7 linked regions of the Homo sapiens genome follow. Changing the gene in region 2 together with the main gene of any one other region gives a genetic interaction. Each region holds a gene or a part of one and is shown on either strand. Other genes may lie near its edges.

Region 1 (3,255 bases), on a different chromosome or scaffold from region 2:
CCCATGCTGGTCTCGAACTCCTAAGCTCAAGTGATCTCCCGCCTCAGCCTGCAGAGTATTGGGATTACAGGTGTGTGCCACCACACCTGGCTGTTTTTTTTTTTTTTTTAAAGAGATGGGGCCTCACTCTTGCTCAGGCTGGAGTGCAGTGTTGCAATCACTGCAATCTTAAACTCCTGGGCTCAAACAATCCTCGTGCCTCAGCCTCCTGAGCAGCTGAGACTACAGGTGCGTGCCACCAAGCCCAGCTAATTTTTAAATCTTTTGCAGAGACAGAGTCTTACTGTGTCGCCTAGGCTGGTCTCGAACTCCTGGCCTCAAGTGATCCTCCCACTCCAGCCTCCCAAGGCACTGGGATTACAGACAGGAGCCATGTTAGGCCCATGCCTGAGGCACGAGAGGACAGCAGATGGAAGCTTCCCTGTTGCCTCCTAGCATGGCCCTTCCCAAAGCCCCTGAGCATCCCAGGCGAGGCCGGGGGGAGCTGCTTACTCCACTCCTTCCCCCAAGTCTGTCATCTCCCCACCTGGAATTCCACGGCTCTCTTGCTGGCCAGGTCTGCCTTGTTACCCGCGAGTGCAATGACGATGTTGGGGCTGGCCTGCCTCTGTAGCTCCTTCACCCAGTTCTTGGCCCGTGCAAATGTATCCTGAGGAGACAGGGACAGAATGTCGAAGGGACAGAGAAGGCATTCTGCCCAGGGCCACCCATTAGAGACTCTCAAGCTGGCACAGCCAAATTATCTAAGACATTGCCACCTAAAGATTCTGATGCAATGTCCCCAAACAGGAAATCTGCCCACCCCCCACCCAGGAACAGAGGGTTAAGCGGCCTGAAATCAGGGCTCTGATAACCCAATCCCTGGGACTTTGAGAAGATGAAGGGCAAAGGAAGAAGCAAGGGGAAATCTTTACTGTGTTGGTGATGTCATAGACCACGATGGCAGCCTGGGCCCCCCGATAGTACATGGGGGCCAGGCTGTGATACCGCTCCTGTCCAGCTGTGTCCCAGATCTCAAACTTGACTGTTGTGTCATCCAGGCAGACAGTCTGTGTGAGGAAGGCCGCTGTAAGAGAGAAGGAGCGTCCATGGGCAAGAGCGAGTTGGAATCCACCCCACACAATCCCACTGTTGCTTCTAGGCTCTGGCACTCAGAAGCCCACCACTGAGATGGGCACAGAGAACCCTCAAGCCAGGAGCCAAAGCAGGCCTGAGTGGGGGGTGGAGTTTGGATTTTTATGTATGTGTCTGGGGGACGGGGTCTGCACAGGCTTTGCAGACCCAGCCCAGGCAACGGCAGGAGAAGGGACTCCTGCATGCACTGAGCCATCTCAGGACCACTCTCTGAAGAGCAACACAGCAGGGGCAAGAGAGGGAAAGCCTAGGGGAAGCCTACTCCAAGCACAGAAGGGTGAGCGCCCTCAGACCTCCTCCTCCGCCACTCAGAGAACAGACCAGCAGCTAGGGACCGCTCCACCCCTCAGTTTGCTCCAGCCCAGGGGTGTCACTGACCTTGGGTTTCCTAAGGACATTCTCACACACTTAGCTATGCTGGGGAAGTACACACTGTTCCACCACCAGGCTGAGGCTGGGTGGCCGGCTTCCCAACCACCCCTACCACCTCCAGGCACTCCAGCTAGCCACCGCCCCTAGCTCTGACCCAGACCTGTTCCTGTATGGCCACCCTGTGACCTGACCTTCAGTCACTAAGAGGTGACTCCTTAGGGGAATGCAGGGTGCCTGTACACATGCTTCAAAGGAGGAGTCCAGAGCTGGGACAGACAGCAAAAGGCCCCTTTGCCCCTGGACCCAGCAGAGAACCCAGGACAGCCATGTGTAGAAGGCTGCTTTCCTGGTCTGCCCTCCCCCAGCTCACTGAGGGACATGGGGCACTGCCTCACTTCCCCTCTCCAGCTCCTGACCCAAATGCTGAGGAGGCAGCAGGGAGACTGCTGACATGGCCCATTTTGTTTCCAGCTGCCTAGAAACCTCCTACCAAGAGAGTAGAGAAAGGATGACTCAAGGCCAAGGCCAGCGTTGGCCCCTGCCTCTTGATGTGTGTGTTAGCCACGGAGGCAAGAGGCCGAGGCCAGACCCTCACTCACATCCTAAATGCTGACCACTGGAAAATCAACAACAGGCTGTGAGCTCCAGAAAGGGTAAAGTCAGCTTCAGAAACACCCACCTATCACCCAGCTCCGACTCACCAGGCTGTTCCTTCTTCTGGAAGTGGGAAAGGCCAGGGCACATGGACCACCCATTATAGTAAGAAGGGGCCTCAAAGATCCAGAGTCAGCTCTCCCTCCATGAGGCCAGGGCAGTGAAAGGGCCTCAGCCAAGGCCACACAGATCAAGAAGGGGCAGAAACAGGATGGGAAGCTAGCTTTCCACTCCCAGCAAATGCTTACTAGCGATGCTTGAGGGGACTCTGGCATGGAGACCAGTTGCTGGGCTCAATTCCAGGGCCCAGGTGAGGAAGTGGGGCTGCCACCACAGACGCATTTAGTCCCTAATGCAGGCAGGCAGCTTCCCATCTCCTCAAGGTCAAAGCATTTCTTTGGCAACCTTCAGGCCCCTCCCCGACTCCCTCATGCCCACTCACCTCCAATTGTGCTCTCCTGGTACTCGTGAAACTGTCCCTTGACAAAGCGGAGGACGAGGCTGGATTTGCCTACCGCAGACTCCCCCAGCAGAACCAGCTTAAATTGACAGATCTTGTTCCCAGCAGCTGGTCCATTGGGTCGTGCTGCGCCTCCCCGACCCGCCATTGCCCGTCCAGCTGTAGTGGTCCAGAGAGCGTGCGGGTGGGGACTGGTGCTATGCAAAGAGGCACTTAGTGGGGAGGGGGACCTCCAACTGTAAGGGAGAAATGAGAAGTACTGAGTTAGTTCAGAGGCCGTCACCCGCTGTGTCCTTCTTAAATTACAGATCTTTCCCTCTGGCCTCACTGAAGACCTAGCTGACTGCTTCCCCTCACCTCACCTCCCTGCCCTCCCCACTAGAGGTCAGGAGGCCCCACTGGGCTATACTAGATGTCTACCGGCTCTACCACCATCTGAGCTGTAAAGAGGAGAATGGTCTCCCAACTTCAGGCTCATGGTTCTGAGCAAACACATTGACTTCTGGATCCCAAATATGTACATTCACCTACAAATAAACACACACAGGCGATGAATGAATGTGTGACAGCCTGGTGACAGTTAAGTCAACAGGCTTTTGGGGCAAAATTAAAACAAAACAAAACAAAACAAAAGC
Region 2 (3,500 bases):
CTTCGTTGCAAATCAAAAAAACAAAAACAACCCCCAAACCATCTACCACTGCTTTCCTTCTGATATATTTAGCAGTAAAGTTAAAAACAGTTAACAATGAACACATACTACACAGAAGCAAGCATAGTCCTAAGCATCTGATAAAGAGAATTCTCATTTATTCCTAACCACAATCCTGTAAGGTGGGTAAGTAAGGTGGATTCCTATAAGGTGCGCACCCACCTTACAGGGCTGTGGTTAGGAATAAATGTGAGGAGGTTGAGCCAGGTTAAGTATTTGGCCCAAAGTTCACAGTTAATAAATACAAGCCTGGGCTATGAACTCTAGCAGTCTGACTCCAATACTCATTCTCTTAGCTACTCTCTTACTCTTTTCAGTACTTTTAGTTTTACTCTCTCTCTCTCAACAAAATTACTTCTAGGGCCAGGTGCTATGGCTCACGCCTGTAATCCCAGCACTTTGGGAGGCTGAGGTGGGCGGATCACGAGGTCAGTGTATGGAGACCATCCTTGCTAACACGGTGAAACCCCGTCTCTACTAAAAATACAAAAAATTAGCCGGGTGTGGTGGCGGGCGCCTGTAGTCCCAGCTACTCGGGAGGCTGAGGCAGGAGAATGGCTTGAACCCGGGAGGCGGAGCTTGCAGTGACCCGAGATCGCGCCACTGCACTCCAGCCTGGGCGACAGAGCGAGACTCCGTCTCAAAAAAAACAATCACTTCTAATTGCTTTGGGACATTTATAAAAAAGAATCTAGATCTAAAAACAAATTATATCCAAATTGCTCAGAAGAGGCTTAACACCTCAATTATTATTTATCCTCTTAAGCGCTTCTGGGAAAGTGAGCAGTAATTTCCCATGAAAATTTCAAAATGAAACTACCGTCTATTAAGCGAAAAAAAATCACCTGCGAAGTTCAATGTTAAAAAATTTTTTAGCAGGGAGGGGAGAGGGATAGCATTAGGAGATATACCTAATGCTAAATGACGAGTTAATGGGTGCAGCACACCAACATGGCACATGTATACATATGTGACAAACCTGCACGTTGTGCACATGTATCCTAAAACTTAAAAGTATTAAAAAAAAAAAAAATTTTTAGCTGGGCGCGGTGGCTCACGCCTGTAATCCCAGCACTTTGGGAGGCAGAGATGGGAGGTTCACAAGGTCAGGAGATCGAGACCATCATGGCCAACATGGTGAAACCCCGTCTCTACTAAAAATACAAAAAATTAGCTGGGCATGGTGGCAGGCGCCTGTAGTCCCAGCTACAAAGCGAGACTCTGCCTCAAAAAAAAAAGAAAAATTTTAGACTTGGTATAATTGGTTTCATTTGCCCATTAATTTTACTGCTTGCCTCACTTAAAAAAATATTCAACTTTAGAAATCTTCAAAGAAGGAAACCCTAAAATCTGGACAAACATAAAACTAGCATCTTTTACTTTTCCATTAATTGCTGGGTATATGAATTGGCAGAATAACTCTCAAATTGTTTTTGTAAATATACCAGGAAAAAGTATTTTACACTCCCACTTGTATCTGCAACACTCTTCCTACTCTTTTTCTCTTTCCTATTTACCACTTAATGTCCCTACAAATACCACTTTGCATTAATTTTCAACTGTTTCCATTTTTTTGTTTTTATTAAATAAAGAAGAGAGAGAAAAGCAAAGAAAAACACAAAATAATGCCAAAAGGCCACCAAGGCAGAAACCCTTTCCTCCCTCCTCCCTATTATCCATTCACTGGACATGCCAATACAATTCCAACCTCTGCTATAGAAGATGAACTCCTGCTGGAATAAGACCCCCATATTGTAACGCATTCAAGATTTACAACTTAAAAGTCACTTTATCTCACTATCAACCAGAGACAACCTTCTTGAAGTCCTATAAATGAACTTACAAGGCCTTGAGAATAATTGCCAGAAAAACTTAAAGCACTTTAGTAAAATGTTTTGCAATTTAATACTGAGGAGAGAAATGCCTCACTAAATCAGGAGCTATATCTGCAAGACTCCAGAAGCAAACTCTTATGTAAACATTCAAGCCAAAATAAAATAAAACATAGCATATCACAAGTTACAGAGCTGGAAAATAAATGGTCTTGATCAAAATGTTTTGGTTAGGATGACGAACCACTAACACAATGGCATTTTAAGAAAATAGAGCTGACAGCCGGGCATGGTGGCTCACGCCTGTATTCCCAGCACTTTGGGAGGCTGAGGCGGGTGGATCACCTGAGGTCAGGAGTTCGAGACCAGCCTGGCCAAAATGGTGAAATACTGTCTCCACTAAAAAATACAAAACTTAGCTGGGCATGGTTGTGGACACCTGCAATCCCAGCTACTGAGGAGGGTGAAGCAGAGAATCGCTTGAACCTGGGAGGTTGAGATTGCAGTGAGCCAAGATCGAGCTACTGCACTCCAGCCTGGGCAACGAGAGCAAACCTCTGTCTCAAAAAAAAAAAAAAAAAAAAAAAGTAGAGCTGACATTTTAAAAAGCCTTACCACTTCTCCACTGTGTACATTAATCTACTGGTCAAAAAGCAGGTATACTTTACACACTATCTGCCCTGTGTCTTTGAAATGGGGGAAAAACTCAAAAAACAAAAAAGCACAAAACCCAGGGCCACAAAACTGTACCAAGACCAGAAGGATCTTTACCCTACTTAATTATATGCCAGATCCTAAAATCCTATCTTTCCAGGTGCTTTTTAAGTGCATACGGCATTAAGCGTTTACCAAGCAGTGACAAAACGTGTTCACTGAGTAATGAAGACAACAGATGACCCTCATCATTTCCATCACTCAAGATGATCAGAAACAGCTCCAAAAGATATTTCCAGGATTTGCCTAACATTAACTTTTCCAGTCTTTTGGTCATTTTTACAAAAAAAGTTTACAAGTGGCTTTCATAATCTTTTTTTTTTGGAGGGAGAGGGAGAACAAAATGTCATTTCTCAAATGATTTGTTTTACCCTAACCATACCAAATGAAATAAAAATTTCAATGGATCAAATGCAAATACTGAAACAGGAACATAAAGGTGTGAAGGCTACAAATAAGTCTTCTCTTCCCCATCCCAACACGTAAAAGTTGAGTTTAACCTAAGTTATTTGAATCAACCTGGAAATTTTTTAGGAGAATATCTGAGTATTAAACAGCAATTCAGAGGTTGAGATTTAAGTAATAATTTGATTTGTAACACTTTAGCATGTCATCCCATTGGATTCCAGTTTTCTTTCCTTTAAAGCTGACATTAGAACGCTCTTGGTGGATATATTTACATCACGAAATTTGCAAGCCTAAATCACTTTTTTTAAAAAAGTTTTAGGTGCTAGAATTTCGGGCTTATTTCAACCAGTTCTAGACAAAAACCATAATATCAAGAAATAATTTTCTTTCACATTTATAAAATACCCAAGTGACAACTCAAAAATCAAAAGTTACAAGTTTGAAACTTAAAAGTTTTAAGAGGTGATGTGCCTCCAATAAAAGTTA
Region 3 (3,500 bases), on a different chromosome or scaffold from region 2:
ACCTGTAATCCCAACACTTTGGAAGGCTGAGGCAGGCGGATCACCTGAGGTCAGGAGTTCAAGACCAGCCTGGACAACATGGTGAAACCCCATCTCTACTAAAAAAAAAAAAAAAATACAAATTAGCCAGGTGTGGTGGCACACACCTGTAATCCCAGCTACTTCGGTGGCTGAGGCAGGAGAATCGCTTTAACTCGGGAGGCAGAGGTTGCAGTGAGCCGAGATCATACCACCGCACTCCAGCATGGGTGACAGAGTGAGACTTCATCTCAAAAAAAAAAAAAAAATCCAAGAAAATAGCTATGGGAAACACCAGAAAGATGGTAATCACTTTAAATATATAAAAGCACATGAAAAATAAGTAGAAGGAAATATATTAAAATGAGAATGATGGCAATACTAAGATGGCAAGGTTAGGATTTATGTTTACTTTTCTCTAGTTCCTAAGTGATTCGTAATGTGCTCATATTACTTTTTTTTTTTTTTTTTTTTAAATGGAGTCTCATTCTGTTGCCCAGGCTTGAGTGCAATGGTGCAATCTCGGCTCACTGCAACCAAAGCCTCCCAGGTTCAAGCGATTCTCCTGCCTCGGCCTCCCAAAATGCTGGGATTACAGGCATGAACCACCGCACCTGGCCTATATTACTTTTATAATCAAAATAGTAAGTTAATTTTTAAAAAAGAAAAAAATAAGGCAATGGCCTTCAGAGCTGCAGTGTACCCTGACTCTGCCATGCATTCTGATGAAAGCTGGTCTCAGATACAAAGAAAATCTGAATAAACTAAACCCTAATAGACTAATTGTGGGCAATACTAGTCTCCTGCCAAGGCCGCATAGTCTGGGCCAGGTGCAAGATCCCTCTCCCAGGGACAATCAATGCCAAGAGGTCAGGGAATTGCACCTCTAGAGCACTAAGGCCCTTTTCCTCAATGCTCAACCGAGCACACTTGAGCAACAGCTCCTTCGGTTGAAGGGGCTCAAGGCAGGTGCAACACACAAAACAACAGCGAGCCAGACAAAGGCAGCAGCCAGGAGCAGAAAATGGGGCTTCTACGGGGCCAGTCCTGCTTTCCATGAATAATGGATGACACCTTTCTTTTCTGCTTCTTCTATCCCTCCCTATCCACACCCCTGGGAAAAAAAAAAAAAGAGGGCAATAATGAAGAAGACAGACCACAATCTGAGGTACAGAAGGCAGCAGCAGGCCCCCAGCTGCTCTTCAAGGAGACATACAGGCATGAGCAGAGGGCCAAAATCAGGAAAAGCTTCATGCCTTCCAAATAATGCTCAAATGGCAGAAAAACACCAGAGTACATTGCTTCTTGGGCTCCATAACAAACCTTGTCCATTATAAGGCTCCTGATTAGTGAGGAGAAGAAAAAAAACACACTAAAAAAGTTAAGGAGCAAAACATCACAGGACTAGGACAGAATCCTATCAGTGCAAAAGGAAGAAGTATATAGTTGTATTTGGGGGCATAGATGTACATCCCTGAAAGTATACCAAAAGGGTCTGGAAGGAGACACATTACCTGTTGATAGAGGTCATCTATGCAGAGGGGGATGGAGGCAGAAATGATATAGGAAGGAGAAAAGATGACTTTCGCCTTGCTCTTAAATATGCTTCTGTACTGTTTTCAATTTAAATAACAGATTGGCATTATTTCTACAATAAAAGTGCATTGACAACCAGCATATTTTTCTTTTTTTTTTTTTGAGACGGGGTCTCACTCTGTCACCAGGCTGGAGGGTAGTGGCACGATCTCAGCTCACTGCAACCTCCACCTCCCAGGTTCAAGCGATTCTCCTGCCTCAGCCTCCCGAGTAGCTGGGACTACAGGCATGTGCCACCACGCCCAGCTAATTTTTGTATTTAGTAGAGACAGGGTTTCACCATGTTGGCCAGGATGGTCTTGATCTCCTGACCTCGTGATCCACCTGCCTCGGCCTCCCAAAGTGCTGGTATTACAGATGTGAGCCACTGCACCCAGCCTTTCTTTTCTTTTTTTAAAATTTATTTTAGAGGCAGGGTCTTGCTTGGTTGCCCAGGCTGGAGTACAGTGGCACAATCACAGCTCACTGTAACCTCAAACTCCTGGGCTCAAGGGATCCTCTCACCTCAGCCTCTAAGTAGCTGGGACTACAGGAATTCACCACCACACCCAGATAGTCTTTTTTTAACTTTCTGTAGAGATGAGGTCTCACTATACTGCCCAGGCTGGTCTTGAACTCTTGGCCTCAAGCAATCCTCCCACTTTAGCCTCCCAAAGTGCTGCAATTACAGGCCTGAAACACTGTGCCTGGCCCAACATATTTTTAAGGGGTACTTTTTTTTTTTTTTTTTTTTTTTTGGAGACAGAGTCTTGCTCTGTTGCCCTGGCTGGAGGGCAGTGGCATAATCTCTGGTCAATGCAACCTCCACCTCCTGGGTTGAAGTGCTTCTCCTGCCTCAGCCTCCTAAGTAGCTTGGACTACAGGTGCGTGCCACCATGCCTGGCTAATTTTTTTTGTATTTTTAGTAGAGACAGGGTTTCACCATGTTTGTCAGGCTGGTCACGAACTCCTGACCTCAGGTGATCCACCCGCCTCAGCCTCCCAAAGTGCTGGGATTACAGGCGTGAACCACTGCACCCAGCCCGTAAGGGGTGCTAGCTTTGGTCTGGGAAACAGTGAAATGAAAACCACAAGTCACAAACCACAACCAGGCAAAGTTCTGTGGGGCCCTCCGATGCATCCAGAGCACACTGTGGGTTTGTTATAGTGAAACCTGAAAGGTCCCATGGAGATGTTGATCTTCACAGTCCCAAAGATTCTGTTATATCCATGAGGGATGCCTCCCTTTCCCCATATTCCTGGAATTGAGTCCTCTGTGCCATCCAGATTTCAGGGGCACAGTACAAGGCACAGCCCTATAACTGACACATGATGTAAATCATATATGGAAGATGTTCTGATGTCCATGAGGGTACAAGATCGTCTAAAAATTTGTACTGATTGAATTTCACAAGTGTGGAGAGGCTCCAACTAGTCATTTTGTATAAATCTCTCAAGACTGTGCTTAGAAAACAGTAACAACTACAATTCTAAGGAGCCAAGAGAACAGATTTCCTCCATCCTTCCCAGATTTCTTTCTCCCCACCATGATTACCTGCAGTGCAGATGTGGCAGGATGAATGTGGGGCCCAAGCAATGCCATTGACACATGCTCGATGGTTGTTTAACCTGGCGACAGGTGTGCAGGGAACCCGGACATCTAGAATCACCACCTGCGGAAATAACAAGTAAAAGGCCTGGGATCATCAGAGTTTCATAGAAAAAAACAAAAAATACTATCCACATGCAAAAATCTTTTTAGGCATAATTTTTCATTTGTGGATTTAAAGAACTAGAGACAGGATTTCCATAGGATTGAGGGAAAAGAAGACAAAGGACACGGGTAGTTGATAGTCTCTATCTTGAGCAACACTGGGCCTTTAGACTGATAGGGGAGATGCAGAAAC
Region 4 (2,527 bases), on a different chromosome or scaffold from region 2:
CTTATTCTTCAAGACTAAGGATTAAAAGTCACTTTTCTGGCCAGGCATGGTCTCATTCATACATACATACATAAATACATAATCATAAAAGTCACTTTTTCTGTAAAGCCCTTCCAGACCCCTCCATGCTGAACTAATTACTGTTATTACTTTATCCCACTCCTATCTTAGCACTGTATAATTGTTGCCAAGACAGACTGTGAGCTTCTTGGGAGGTAGGGGGAAGTCTTACTCACCTTAGATCTCCAGGGCTTAACACAGAGGTATCCAATAAAGTTATGCTGAGTAAATGAATAAAATAGCTACCCATTGGCAAGACAGCCTTCTTTATAATATAAAAGTTATTTGGATGGACGGGTGCAGTGGCTTACGCTGTAATCCCAGCACTTTGGGAGGCTGAGGCGGGTGGATCGCTTGAGCCCAGGAGTTCGAAACCAGGCAGGGGAACATAGTGAAACCCCATCTCTATAAAAAATACAAAAATTAGACAGGTGCCTGTAGTCCCAGCTACTTGGGAGGCTAAGGCAGAAGAATTGCTTGAGCCTGGAGGCAGAGGTTGCAGTGAGCCAAGATTGTGCCATTGCACTCCAACCTGGGCGACAGGAGTGAAACCCTGTCTCAACAACAACAACAGCAACAACAACAAGTTATTTGGATGCTCAGGACTCTCTCTCAGAGCAGACAGATATTTAAAAGACAGAGGACTGGAGGAATGACCAGTTATTACCATTGTTTTGCAGTTTTATTACCATCTTGCATTGAAAGATTCTGGGCTTGGAGAATTTAAATTCCAAACTCCTTTGCAAAAGAAAAAATTGCAAAGTAGAGGGAAAGGAGTAGAAGCTAAGTTCATTTGTTCCTCTATGGAAATACAGACATCTTTGGCCTGGCTTTTTGGCCAGTTGGACTAGACACAATTGGAGGTCAGAAAACAAGTGTTAGGAAATGAGGTAGCACTGATTTTTTTTTGAACAATAACACAATAAGTCTTGATGACTTCTAGAAAGAATGAAATAAATGTGCTGGGAAGCCCTATAGGAATTTTATCAGGGGATCTTTGGTTCATTTCCAACTCTGCTACAAAGGGAAGAAATAAAGATCCTCCTCTGTATATCAACAAGACCCCACATTCCTGACTATAATGAGAACACACTTACTATTTATATTTACCAGCCTAATTTTGTTTCCTAGGGCCACTATGACTTAAAAAAAAACTATTTGGGGACTCTAATGAGTCATTGCTCAGAATGCTTAAAAAATTATGGCGAATGAACATATTGCTAGCTGTACCCCAAATTTAGACTATGTTTAAAAACAAAACAAAAAGAATAATTTTTCTTTCTAAATTCATTTTAAATCAATCTCACTTAAAAGCAAACTCAAAAATCCCCTTCTCCGTTGGTGCCATAGTCCAGTTCAATTCAGTTCAATTCAATCCAATTCAACAAATGTTTAATGAGCATCCATTATGAACTAGGTGTTGAACTAGGTGTACAAATGTACACCTTAGTTATGATTCCTACCTTAAGGGACTCTCAGAGACAGATACACAATCACAATCCAATATGAGTATAAACAGAGGCAGTGCCAGAAACTAACAGAGTGGATTAATGCTACTGCTTTTTTTAGTTTGTGCTGTCATCAAGGGTGTTTTCCTGACTCCATGTATAGAAGGAAGGTGGGTGGAAAAAAGCAGAACCCCAACCCTGATTTTAAAAAGTCAACCTTGAGAAGTCTTGAGTCACACACTGAAAAGCAAGCTTCTCCACTTACATCACTGGTAAGGGACTAGAGACCAATGTTTATAGGATTAAAAATATTAATTACTAAAATAATTCAGCTGAACAACTGTGTTTCTATTCCTAAACAAAGCTATCATACTGTAACAAAAACTATGTGTGTGTATGTGTATATAATTTAAGGATATGTCTTCCTCCTTTTTCACTATACTCCACAGGTAAAAATTACATGTGAATTTCTTATACCAAAGACACCAAGGGGAATCTAGAACCTGAATAGTGTTATAATAATTAAAAAAATAGAACTTGTGGGGAGCAGAAAAATAGAAAAAGACTTTCAGGAAAATAATGAGAAAAACCCCAAGATATTTGTCTTAATGGAGTAATAAGCTCCTAATTACAGCCAAACACTTACTTGGAGAAGTTAGGAGTATGGGAGTGGGTAAGGCAGAAGGATAAGATGAAATTATTAATAGCTTAAAACACTGAAAATGCTCCTCACCTCTCAACTTCCACGGCTTGCAGTTTTCAGAGCCACTGCTATGTTTCATACTTCTTTGCTTTTGCACCTGCTATTCAAAGGCTGTCCCATCCATCTCACACTTTGTTTGGTGGAACTATGCATCTTTAAAAACCCAACTCTCACATTATTACTCCTCTAGGAAGCTTTCCTCAACTGCATTGCTTTCCCCTTAGAGTTACGTACTCATTCTTCCATATCTTGTAAATATACTGTGTTGTAATTTATTTGTCTGTATGTCCATTTTCCATGCAAGCTTATGAAGCTT
Region 5 (3,500 bases), on a different chromosome or scaffold from region 2:
GCCCCAGGAGATAGGCCAAGTTTCTTGGGCACCCCTCAGAGTGGCCTTATTTTTCTCCTCCAGGCAACCTCCAAGTCCCAGATCATGTCTCTGTGGGGTCTGGTCTCCAAGATGCCCCCAGAAAAAGTGCAGCGGCTCTATGTCGACTTTCCCCAACACCTGCGGCATCTTCTGGGTGACTGGCTGGAGAGCCAGCCCTGGTGAGTCCTGGCTGCTCCCTGCTGGTCCCCCAAGTCTTCCCTAACTCATCTTCCTTCTCCTTAGATTTTTCTCCCCTCACCCATGGATTCAGAACTTGAGACCTGTTATTCCATGTGTAGTGACCTAGATTTAGCAGGGAGTCTGTGCCCCATCAAGACCAGGCTATGAATGTTGACAGATGGAGACCCCATCTCTTAGGAGGCTGAGCCGAAGAGGAGGGGGGTTTGGGCTGGGACAAAGGCACTTCTCATAACAGCTAGAAGACTGGGAAACAAGGCGCATGGGTGAAAGCTACAGAGGGCCTAGATGGAGAATAAGGAGCGAGAAAGGAACTGCTGAGCTTTTGGCTGTGGGGTAAAGGGTCAGGAGAGCTGAGGAAGCCCTGGCCTGAGGTAGCCTCATCCTGATCTTCCTGCAGGGAGTTCCTGGTCGGCTCCGACGCCTTCTGCTGCAACTTGGCTAGTGCCCTACTTTCAGACACTGTCCAGCACCTTCAGGCCTCGGTGGGAGAGCAGGGGGAGGGGAGCACCATCTTGCAACACATCAGCACCCTTGAGGTGGGGCAGGAGGGGAGGGGACAAGGCTGGGTGGGGCTGAGGTTGAACTGGGTTGAGCATTGGGCCCTGGAAGAAAATTGGTTGGATGCTGGAAGCAAATTGGTGTTCCTGTGGTTAACTGCTAGCTAGCAGGCAAATTAGATTTTAAAAGCATGCAAATGCACAAAAACTTCTGGAGTCTACAGTTGTGCTTCCTTATAGTATATGTGTGAATGCAGGCCTGGGGATTGGAGGGATTGAAGGACATGGGTAAGAGCAAAGCTCACTGTTTACCACCCTCATTTCTGTAGAGCATATATCAGAGGGACCCCCTGAAGCTGGTGGCCACTTTCAGACAAATACTTCAAGGAGAGAAAAAAGCTGTTATGGAACAGGTATTGTGATATTCCACCTCCCACCCCAACTCAATCCCCTGAGACTTTGGCCTGAGCCATGACAAACTAGAAAGAATTTGAACCTCAGTAAAGGCTCAGTGTTCTAGGCCCAGGAATGACCAAAGGAGGTTCCTAGGGTCAGAGTGAACCCCAAGTCAAGCTCAGGGAATCTTTCTATGAGGGACTGAAGGTAAGAGGCCGGGGAGAACAGAGCAAGGGATAAGGAGCTGATTCTGCTAGGAGCAAGGTCTTATCTCCACGATATTCCAAAAGGTCAGGAAGAACTGCCAAAGGGGAGAGGGGAACAAGAAAACGCTATCTGCAGAGCAGAGAGTGGAGGCCAGGTATAGAGGGATGAGCAGAGTGTTTCACTTCTTGGCATCTGTCCTTCCTGTGTAGTTCCGCCACTTGCCAATGCCTTTCCACTGGAAGCAGGAAGAACTCAAGTTTAAGACAGGCTTGCGGAGGCTGCAGCACCGAGTAGGGGAGATCCACCTTCTCCGAGAAGCCCTGCAGAAGGGGGCTGAGGCTGGCCAAGGTGGGGGCCAGGGTGGTTCTGGGGAGTGTGTAGGAGTGGTTGCCTCTTGGATCTCAACCTTATCTGAACCTCTAATCTGTCTGCACCCTTGATTTCTGCCCCCAACCCTCAGTGTCTCTGCACAGCTTGATAGAAACTCCTGCTAATGGGACTGGGCCAAGTGAGGTGAGTAATGGGCTGACAGGTGGAGACCTTGGTCAAAGTGCAGCTGGAGGGATGGAAGCTAGACCTCAGAAAGACACAGGCTGAAGTAGGGCAAGGGAATGCCAGAGGAGTGAGAAAAAGAGCCGTATCCCAGGAGCTGGGTGTGGAGGCAGCGTGAGGCCCTGGCTCAGGCCCCTCTCTGCCCATAGGCCCTGGCCATGCTACTGCAGGAGACCACTGGAGAGCTAGAGGCAGCCAAAGCCCTAGTGCTGAAGAGGATCCAGATTTGGAAACGGCAGCAGCAGCTGGCAGGGAATGGCGCACCGTTTGAGGAGAGCCTGGCCCCACTCCAGGAGAGGTTGGGCTAGGGCTGATGGGGAAGAGGGGGCAAGCTGGGGGTGGGCAGCTGACCCTGCTGAAGGCCCTACAGGTGAGAGAAAGAAGCCAGGCGGGAGGGCCTTGGAGTGGACCAAGATGCATAAAAGCCAGTTCCAGCGGGGCTGTGCACACTGTCGTTCAGGTCGCATCCTGTACAAGTGGGCCTAGTGGAGGGGCACAAGCGGGGACTCATCCAACCCAGGCTTCTCTCCTCAAGCCCCATGCCTAGAGGAATAGGAGGGCTTTTCCATTTGGTTTATTGGGTGGGAACACTTTCCAATTTGCCACAAAGCACTGTAAGTGGTGGCAGTTGTCCTGGGTGCAAGAGCCGTCGGGGGAGAGGCAGCTGGGTTTCCACAGGGGGTGTAGGCACTGAGAATGAACCTCCCACCCAGACCCTAGGCCAACAGATCACAGAACCCCCTTCAGCCCAGGTGCCTTGCAGCCACACCCACTACCCACCCCACTTCTCCACACATGATAGCCTTTCTCCCTGGGTATAGGGGAAGGGGGTCTGGGCCGGAGCAAGCAGCCTTAATCCTGTGCCCCCTGACCACTGTCCTGGCCCCAGGTGTGAAAGCCTGGTGGACATTTATTCCCAGCTACAGCAGGAGGTAGGGGCGGCTGGTGGGGAGCTTGAGCCCAAGACCCGGGCATCGCTGACTGGCCGGCTGGATGAAGTCCTGAGAACCCTCGTCACCAGGTATTCCCCGGGAGCTCCCAGTCTGGCCTAGAACAGACCTCGGGAAGAAAAGAAGGGGGCTAGAGCTGTGGGGAGGGCACCAGCAGGGACCTAGCCCCCAACTCCCCTTGTGTCCTCCTCACTCCCAGTTGCTTCCTGGTGGAGAAGCAGCCCCCCCAGGTACTGAAGACTCAGACCAAGTTCCAGGCTGGAGTTCGATTCCTGTTGGGCTTGAGGTTCCTGGGGGCCCCAGCCAAGCCTCCGCTGGTCAGGGCCGACATGGTGACAGAGAAGCAGGCGCGGGAGCTGAGTGTGCCTCAGGGTCCTGGGGCTGGAGCGTAAGCTGGGATTGGACCTGGGGTTGGAGAAGGGCTGTTAGGGTGATGGAGGCAGCCTGGAGGGCTGGCACTGAAAAGAGCAAGGGATGGGGAGGGAGGGCCATGGGATGTGGAGACCCTGAATGGTCAAGGCAGAGGAAAGGGAGGGACCCATTTAGGGCTGGAATGGGGTGGGGGCATCATGATTTGGCCAAGATGGGGACTCCTCCCTTAAGAACCCAAACAGAGACATGGAGATTTAGGGCTGGTGACAGTGGGTAGTCTACACTCACCCATGCACTCGCCACA
Region 6 (4,019 bases), on a different chromosome or scaffold from region 2:
ATATCAACCTGTGTACCCTTCCATAAGAGCCACGGACGTGTGTAGTAATGTAGTCAAGGTCAGAGGAACTTCCTCACGTACTGGAGAAATTTGCACCCCTCCTTCCTTCCCCAGGCAGCAGGCTTCCTCCTTGCAATCCGCCTGCCGCCTACAGGCGTCGCTGAGGGACAGCTGGCCCAGTTTGCGGATTTTCCTCCGGATCCCACACCCATGTCCAGGGAAAGCCGGAGCCACGGCGGTATAAATTAGCGCCTTTATTTTGATCACCTGAGCGAGCGCCCGCGGCTCGCCCGCCTGCGGTATAAACGTACAAATTCCCTGTAGCACCACACACCATGCCTCAGAGATAAATACAGCCCCAGGGGCTCCTGCTCTGGCAAAGCAACTCTTATTTACAGGAATAGATTACAAAAGTATTACAAAAAGTGGTCCTGAACCGGGAAACGGGTTGGGGGTGGGTTACGGTTACACCTGCTACATTTGGGACCGGAGTGCACTGGGTCTCACGCCCCCCCAAATAACCGGTGCATCCCGGGGCAGGGCTTAGGTCTGCGAGGGTCTCACCCCCATGGGGGAGGGCGCGAGAAAGCTGAACCTAGCCCCTCAAGGTTCAGCTCTGGCCCACCGAGGAACACGGAGCGGCCATCGCAATGGGTCTCCGAGAAGGGTGCTGCGTGGAAAAAACCGCGCTGTGTCCTTGCCCTGTGGGGCGGGGGCGGAAACTTCAGTTCTCCCGCCTCTCCTACCTCAAGAGAGGTCGCTTTTAAAGCGCTGTTGGGAGGGGGGCATTTAAGTTCAATCTTTTGGGCGCGAGGGACCCTAGGGGCACCATCCCTCGGGCGGGTGGGCGGCCACCATCCCCTCAGAGCACCTGGTATATCGGGTTGGGGTTCGCACCCGCAGGGCACTGCGGGGCGGCGTCCGGTGACTGGGTGGGGTCGCCGCTGCTCTCTCCCTCGCTGGGGGCGGCAGCCTCTTGCCTGCGCGGAGGCGACTCAGAAGGCACGTCCGCCAGCAGGAGGGCGGGCGCCGCAGGGCTCTCGGTGGAGATGCGCTCCACGATGCTGGACAGGCAGTCTAGGCTCGACACCGCCGCACTCTTCCCGGGCCTGGGTTCTGCGCGGGGAGGGCTCGGTTAGTAAGCAGGGGTGGGGCCGCGACAAGCCTCCCACCCCCGGGCCCAGTACTTTGAGACAGATTGGAAACTGAGGACTTTAGTTAGAGTCCGGGACAATCCAAAAGACAGGGAGCTACTTGCTTAGTATTTCATCTCCTGCACCACTTCCCAGGACATAGGCGTGTGTGAGTGGGGGTGGGAGCGTCCTAGATAGAGGCCAGGACAGCTCCATGAAGGAGGAGGAGCGAGCAGGGAGAGGCCCGGAATACCCACCGCTGGGCGCCTCGTTGTAGTAGGCGCCTTCGTAGCAGTTCCGCCGCCGGGCGCCGCTCGGGGGGCCGCTGTAGTCCATCTGCAAACAGCAAGGGCGACTGAGTCAGGCCCGCGGGACGGCTCGAGGCCCGAACACCAATTCCTGTAGCCGCCCCCTCCCTAACTCTAGCCTAAGGCTCTAGTTCCGGGCCCAGACCTGTCCTGGTTGGGGGGGTAATTACGGGTGGGTAGGAGATGAGGTCTGCAACATGCAGGGCCAAACCAAGGGCGGACAGTCACCAAGGGGCGCAAATTTACATTTTGGAAGTAGGGATAAGTAGAGAAAAAGATCTTCACGTTCGCGCTGCAGTGTTCTAATAGCGCCCCCAATGGGGCAGCTCGAACGCTTGCCCGCACACTTCCAAAACAGGCTACCCCAGTGACAGCTGCCCAGGACAAGGGGGTCCTCTCTCTCGGGAAGGATCCTGGCCCAAACCTCCCGCAAGGCCAGCTCCCCGCCCTCGGAAACGCGTCCCTGATATCCCGAGCGCCGCCCTAACTTCCTCACTTCCTGGGGTCCCGGCCTTACCATGCCGTCGGAGCAGTTGGAGCGCGGGCTGGACGCGTCGGAGTCGCCGCTGTAGTGCTCGCCGCCGCGGCCCGGGGGCAGCGGGCCCGGCGCATAGAAGGCGGCTGCGGCGCCAGGGGGCGCGGCGTCCTGGTCGCGCAGCAGAGCCTGCAGGCCCTCGATATAGCGGATGGCGTTGCGCAGGATCTCCACCTTGGGCAACCGCTGGTTTGGATTGCTCGACGTGCAGCGCTTGAGTGTCTCAAAGGCCTCATTTACTTTGCTCAGGCGGCGCCGCTCGCGCATGGTGGCGGCCTTGCGGCGGTCGGCGTTGGTGGTCTTGCGCTTGCACGCCTTGCAGGCCCACAGTAGGCAGCGGCCCGCCTGGTGGTGCCCGCTGGGCGCGCGCACATGCTCGTCCTCACGTGCGCCCGGGGCCGGGTGCACCGCCGCGGGGAAGTGCGAGTGCTCTTCGGGTTTCAGGAGCGCGCCCACGTGCATCAGGCGCGGGTCCAGGTCTTCGAAGAAGCGCAGGTCCGGGGAGTCGAAACACGGGTCGTCATAGAAGTCGTCCGTTGTGGCAAAGGAGCAGAGAGAGCCGTCGGGGGCCGTCAGGTCTACGTCGCGGAGCGGTGGCGACAGTAGCTCCATATCCTGGCGGTGGCGCGGCACGGTCCTGGCTTCGCCCAACCCAAGCGGCAGAGAGTGGCCGGAACTTTCTGCCGCTCGGGAGCCCCGGCTGTAGATAGCAAAGTGCTGGCAGTCTGAATGCCCACCCACTGTCCCCCACCCCTCCCTCTCCTGTCCGGCCTGATTTGTGGTTAAGGAAAGCGGCGGCAGCGCCCCAGGGCTTCCTCACCCCTAGCTTCTCGCCAGGCGCCCTGGGCTATTTATCCGTAGTAGCCTAAACGCCCCGGAGCCCAGGCGGGCAGCTGGGGGAGGGGGAGTCCGAGGCCAATAGGAACACTGCGGGGCGGGGCTTGGGGGGGTCCCCGGGGTGGCCGCAGGGGCCCGCAGACTGGCCAGCCAGCCCGCCCCTCCACACTGGCGTGCGCGCTAGGTCCCCTACCGGGCAGGGAGGGAGGGAGCGACCGGCAGCCCTAGGCGGCTGCACTTGGCTCTCCGGCACGCCCTTTCCAAACCTCTCCAACACCCGACTGCTGTATCCGCGGGAAACGCTGGCTGCGCGCGCTCACCTCTGAGCTGACTTTCAATACTCCTCTGTCCCCTGATTTGTGGGGGACCCATGGGTAGAGCGGCTGTAGAAATCAGGTCGTGAGAGATTTGGAGAGAGGCAAGGCATTGGGGGCACAGAGCTGAGGAGTGAGACCGTGAAAGAGGGACCGAAAGAGGCTGAGAGACACGCAGAAAGCAGAAAGCTTAGAGCGTCAGGGGCAGAGAAACGCACGAGTGCAACAACAGGCGGAGAGACCCCGAGAGTTGAAGTGGGCGAGCCCGAGACAAACGGGTCGTAGAGGCTCTGATATTCCGCCAGTCCCCGACCTGGGAGTTGCTCAGCAGGTCGTGGGCCCAGTCCTTCTTCCCTAGACGCTTAGAAACCCAGCTATGGTTGTACAGGAATCGGAGATTGCTGCTAAAGCTTCGCGCCAATCTCTCCAAACTCGGATCCTGCCCAGGTTAGGAATCCCCTCCATCTAAATCTGCACGTTTCCACAGCAGGGGTGTCCAGTGCCATGCCTGGGGTCTAGGCTGAGCTGCCTCTTCAGCTGGGAAGAAAACCCTTCTGCTCGGGGCTTGGCTCCGCCTCACTCGCGGTGCTGAGTCAAGGAAAGTGCATTTCGCCAAGGTGTCAAACTTCAGGACCTGGCCTGAGAACCTGACCTCATCTCACCTGAAGTCTCCGAGAGTGCGGTTTGCAGACCAGTTGAGTGCAGACTCCAGAGTTTCCCAACTGTGTGATTTTGTGGAAGTCATGTCTCCTTCCTGAGCCTCAGTTTCCAGTTATAGATTTGGGGATGACAGTAATTTCTTGGAGTAATTGTGGTGGGGATGACAGTCTGAAGAGACCAAGGATATGGAAGCCCTCAGGCGGTGATGTAGGGTTATTCGAGCAAGGGGCTT
Region 7 (3,500 bases), on a different chromosome or scaffold from region 2:
CTTGGCAGTTGATGAGGCATTTGGTCTTCACCCAGTGAATTACTGGTTTTGTTTACAGGCCATGTGACACAATCTCCTTCCAGGTCTGCCAAAAGCTACCATGAAAAGAGCAGACTCTTTTGGTAGTGGGTGTTTGAGCCCATGACACTTAGGGGCTACCTCAAGAAGGAAGCTTGAATCCAACTTCTAAAGGGTAAAATCCAAACACTAAGTTGTTAGGAAAATAGAGTAAAAGAAAACCCAACAGTGCTGTGTGCTGTCATTGTCGCTGCCTTCCCAGCCATGGAGCCATTACACTGGAGATAAAAGTTGTACCATATCCAAAAACAACAGTGAAAGCATCCACACCATTCAGTCACAAAGACTACACTGTTTATCTTTGCATTTCAAGCTTGTTAAGAAAAGCAGGCTGGGCACAGTGGCTCACGCCTGTAACCCCAGCACTTTGGGAGGCCAAGGCAGGTGGATCACCTGAGGTCACCTGCCTGACCAACATGGTGAAATCCCGTCTCTACTGAAAATACAATAATTAGCCAAGTGTGGTGGCAGGTGCCTGTAATCCCAGGTACTTGGAAGCCTAAGACAGGAGAATCACTTGAACCCCGGAGGCGGAGGTTGCAGTGAGCCGATTGGGCCACTGCACTCTAGCCTGGATGACAGAGCAAGACTCTGTCTCAAAAAAAAAAAAAAAAAAAAGCTTGTTAAGAAAAGCAGTTTGTAACCAGGGAGAGTGAAAGCCATCTGGATGCGAGGATGTTGGCTACCTTGGGAGGGGACTGGGTGGTAACTGGTAGGAGGCTCAGGGGGCTTTGCTGGTTATGCTGTTTCCCGACCTGGATGCTGATTATGTGACTGTGCTCCCTTTGTGAAATCCATGGAGCTGTCCACTTATGTGCACTTTTCTGTATGTCTGTTAATTTTCTTTTTTTTTTTTTTTTTTTTTTTTTTTTTGAGACAAGGTCTGGCTCTGTCACCCAGGCTGGAGTGCAGTGACACAATCTTGGCTTACTGCAACCTCTGCCTCCCAGGTACAAGCCTTCCACCTCAGCTTCCTGAGCAGCTCGGACTACAGGGACACAACACCACACCCAGCTAATTTTTGTATTTTTTGTAGAGACAGGTATAACCTGTTGGCCAGGATGGTCTCGAACTCCTGAGCTCAAGCAATCTGCCTGCCTCTGCCTCACAAAGTGTTGGGATTATAGGTATGAGCCATAATCCCACCTGGGCTCTGTTAATTTTCAGTGAAATGTACTGTCAAAGACTGCTTTGTCTTTGCCTAGAGAAAAGAATTAGGAGAGGCTTTTCCCTGTATAATGTTTGAGATCTTTCTAATTTTGACACAAGTAAATGCATTATTACATAATGAAACTCAATGTCTAGGTGAGAGGTTGGCAAACTACAGCCTGCAGGCCAAATCTGGCTCAATGCCTGGTTTTCTTTTTAATTGGGATATAATTGACATACCAATTCAGTGGTTTTTAATATGTTTAATATATTCACAAGGTTGTACAACCAACCTCACTACGTAATTCCAGAACATTTCATCATCCCCTAAAGAAACCCTGTAACCCTTGGCAGTCATTCCTTATTCCCCCACTCCTAGAACTTGGCAACCATTAATCTAGTTTCTGTCTCTATGGATTTGTCTATTCGCTACAGAATACATTTAACAGAAATGGAATCATAGGCATATGAAACATTAGCATGTTTCCAAGGTTAATCTATGTTGTAGCCTGTGTCAGTATGTTATATCTATTTTTATGGCTGAATAATATTCCACTGTGTGGATATTTGTTTATATTCATTCAATTGATGGCCATTTGGATTGCTTCCACCTTGTGGCTATTATAAAAAGTGCTGCTATTGGCCAGGCATGGTGGCTCTTGCCTGTAATCCCAGTACTTTGGGAAGCCGAGGCAAGCGGATCACTTGAGGTCAGGAGTTCAAGACCAGCCTGGCCAACAAGGTGGAATCCCGTCTCTAGTAAATATACAAAAAATAAAAATAAAAAAATTAGGCGGGTGTGATGGTGCACACCTATAATCCCAGCTACTCAGGAGGCTGAGGCAGGAGAATCGCTTGAACTGGGGAGGCGGAGGTTACAGTGAGCCAAGATGGCACCACTGCACTCTAGCCTGGGTGACAGAGCTAGACTCCATCTCAAAAAAAAAAAAAAAAAAAAAAACACTGCTATGAACACTTGTGTACATGTTTTTATGTGAACATGTTTTCAATTCTCTTTGGTATATTCCTAGGAGTAAAATTGCCGATCATATGGTAATCTTGTGTGTGGTTTTGAAGAATGGTCAAACTGTCTTCCACACTGGGTGCAGCATTTTGTGGTTTGGATTTGCATTTCCCTAAGACCTAATGATGCTGAGCATATTTATATGTGCTTTTCGGCCACTTGTATGTTTTCTCTGGAGAAGTGTCTATTCAAATCCTTTGCCCATTTTAAATTAGGGTTATTTGTCTTTTTAGCCCTGAGCTAAAAAACGTTCTTTTTATGTTCTGAACACTAGATTTTTATTAGATAACTAACTTGCAAATATTTTCTCCCATTCTGTGGGCTGTCCTTTTATTATTATTTATTATTATTATTATTTTTGAGACGGAGTCTCGCTCTGTTGCCCAGGCTGGAGTGCAGTGGCGCGATCTCGACTCACTGCAACCTCCGCCTCCTGGGTTCAAGCGATTCTCCTGCCTCAGCCTCCTGAGTAGCTGGGACTACAGATGCCTGCCACCATGCCTGACTAATTTTTGTATTTTTAGTAGAGATGGGGTTTCACCATATTGGCCAGCCTGGTCTCAAATGCCTGACCTCAGATGATCCACCCGTCTCGGCCTCTCAGAGTGCTAAGATTATAGGCATAAGCCACCGCACCTGGCCTTTTTATTTATTTATTTATTTTTTGAGACTAGGTCTTGCTCTGTCACCCAGGCTAGAGTGCAATGGTGAGATTATAGCTCACTGCAATCTCCAGCTCCTGGGCTCATGTGATCCACCCACCTTAGCCTCCCCAAGTAGCTGGGTTTATTCTAACAAGTGTGTGCCACCATACCCAGCTATTTTTTTTTTTCTAGATATCGGGTCTCACTATGTTGCACAGGCTGGTCTCAAACTCCTGGGCTCAAGTGATCCTCCCACCTCAGCCTTCCAAAGTGCAGGGATTACAGGCATGAGCCACTGTGCTCAGCCCCATCCATTCCTGCCAGTGCAGCTGGAGGAATCTATTCAAACCAGAAATCTGAGCACATCACTCATTTGTTTTAGCTCTCTGTGGATAAAAGCCAAATCCCTAATACATTCTGGAAGGTTTCTAGTTAAACTGCACATCTACTATCTGCCTGGCTCTGCCCACATTCTGCTTCCCCTCCTGCTACCATAGATGAGCTCCCGGCCCTTTGCTGAGGCCGATGCCTCCATCCCTGCTCTGTTCCACCCCCCTCCTTCCTGAGGACCTAGTTCCTTTCTCATTTTTCTCTCTCTCTTGCCC

The links.
Region 1: changes in EP300 (region 2) and RAB5C together harm fitness more than expected from each alone (negative genetic interaction), as found in Homo sapiens cells (one large-scale study listed by BioGRID).
Region 3: changes in EP300 (region 2) and DCAF7 together harm fitness less than expected from each alone (positive genetic interaction), as found in Homo sapiens cells (one large-scale study listed by BioGRID).
Region 4: changes in EP300 (region 2) and VPS45 together harm fitness less than expected from each alone (positive genetic interaction), as found in Homo sapiens cells (one large-scale study listed by BioGRID).
Region 5: of EP300 (region 2) and STAT6, changing one enhances a phenotype caused by changing the other (phenotypic enhancement), as found in Homo sapiens cells (one study listed by BioGRID).
Region 6: of EP300 (region 2) and MYOD1, changing one enhances a phenotype caused by changing the other (phenotypic enhancement), as found in Homo sapiens cells (one study listed by BioGRID).
Region 7: changes in EP300 (region 2) and VPS51 together harm fitness more than expected from each alone (negative genetic interaction), as found in Homo sapiens cells (one large-scale study listed by BioGRID).

Annotation. Positions count from the first base shown.
Region 1 is NC_000017.11:42,127,735-42,130,989, forward strand, and holds part of RAB5C (ras-related protein Rab-5C), read right to left. Parts: intron 2,857-3,255; coding exon of another isoform or gene 2,769-2,856; coding exon 2,603-2,768; intron 1,067-2,602; coding exon 915-1,066; intron 650-914; coding exon 527-649; intron 1-526. UniProt on the Homo sapiens protein: The small GTPases Rab are key regulators of intracellular membrane trafficking, from the formation of transport vesicles to their fusion with membranes.
Region 2 is NC_000022.11:41,095,592-41,099,091, reverse strand, and holds part of EP300 (histone acetyltransferase p300), read right to left. Parts: intron 1-3,500. UniProt on the Homo sapiens protein: Functions as a histone acetyltransferase and regulates transcription via chromatin remodeling. Acetylates all four core histones in nucleosomes. Histone acetylation gives an epigenetic tag for transcriptional activation.
Region 3 is NC_000017.11:63,584,977-63,588,476, reverse strand, and holds part of DCAF7 (DDB1- and CUL4-associated factor 7), read right to left. Parts: intron 3,267-3,500; coding exon 3,149-3,266; intron 1-3,148. UniProt on the Homo sapiens protein: Involved in craniofacial development. Acts upstream of the EDN1 pathway and is required for formation of the upper jaw equivalent, the palatoquadrate. The activity required for EDN1 pathway function differs between the first and second arches.
Region 4 is NC_000001.11:150,140,776-150,143,302, reverse strand, and holds part of VPS45 (vacuolar protein sorting-associated protein 45), read right to left. Parts: intron 466-2,527; coding exon of another isoform or gene 372-465; intron 1-371. UniProt on the Homo sapiens protein: May play a role in vesicle-mediated protein trafficking from the Golgi stack through the trans-Golgi network.
Region 5 is NC_000012.12:57,104,863-57,108,362, reverse strand, and holds part of STAT6 (signal transducer and activator of transcription 6), read left to right. Parts: intron 1-63; 5' UTR 64-84; coding exon 85-200; intron 201-619; coding exon 620-758; intron 759-1,048; coding exon 1,049-1,132; intron 1,133-1,531; coding exon 1,532-1,670; intron 1,671-1,782; coding exon 1,783-1,835; intron 1,836-2,023; coding exon 2,024-2,172; intron 2,173-2,763; coding exon 2,764-2,895; intron 2,896-3,023; coding exon 3,024-3,212; intron 3,213-3,500. UniProt on the Homo sapiens protein: Carries out a dual function: signal transduction and activation of transcription. Involved in IL4/interleukin-4- and IL3/interleukin-3-mediated signaling.
Region 6 is NC_000011.10:17,718,352-17,722,370, reverse strand, and holds MYOD1 (myoblast determination protein 1), read right to left. Parts: upstream 2,801-4,019; 5' UTR 2,589-2,800; coding exon 1,959-2,588; intron 1,470-1,958; coding exon 1,391-1,469; intron 1,117-1,390; coding exon 863-1,116; 3' UTR 235-862; downstream 1-234. UniProt on the Homo sapiens protein: Acts as a transcriptional activator that promotes transcription of muscle-specific target genes and plays a role in muscle differentiation. Together with MYF5 and MYOG, co-occupies muscle-specific gene promoter core region during myogenesis.
Region 7 is NC_000011.10:65,099,214-65,102,713, reverse strand, and holds part of VPS51 (vacuolar protein sorting-associated protein 51 homolog), read right to left. Parts: intron 1-3,500. UniProt on the Homo sapiens protein: Acts as a component of the GARP complex that is involved in retrograde transport from early and late endosomes to the trans-Golgi network (TGN).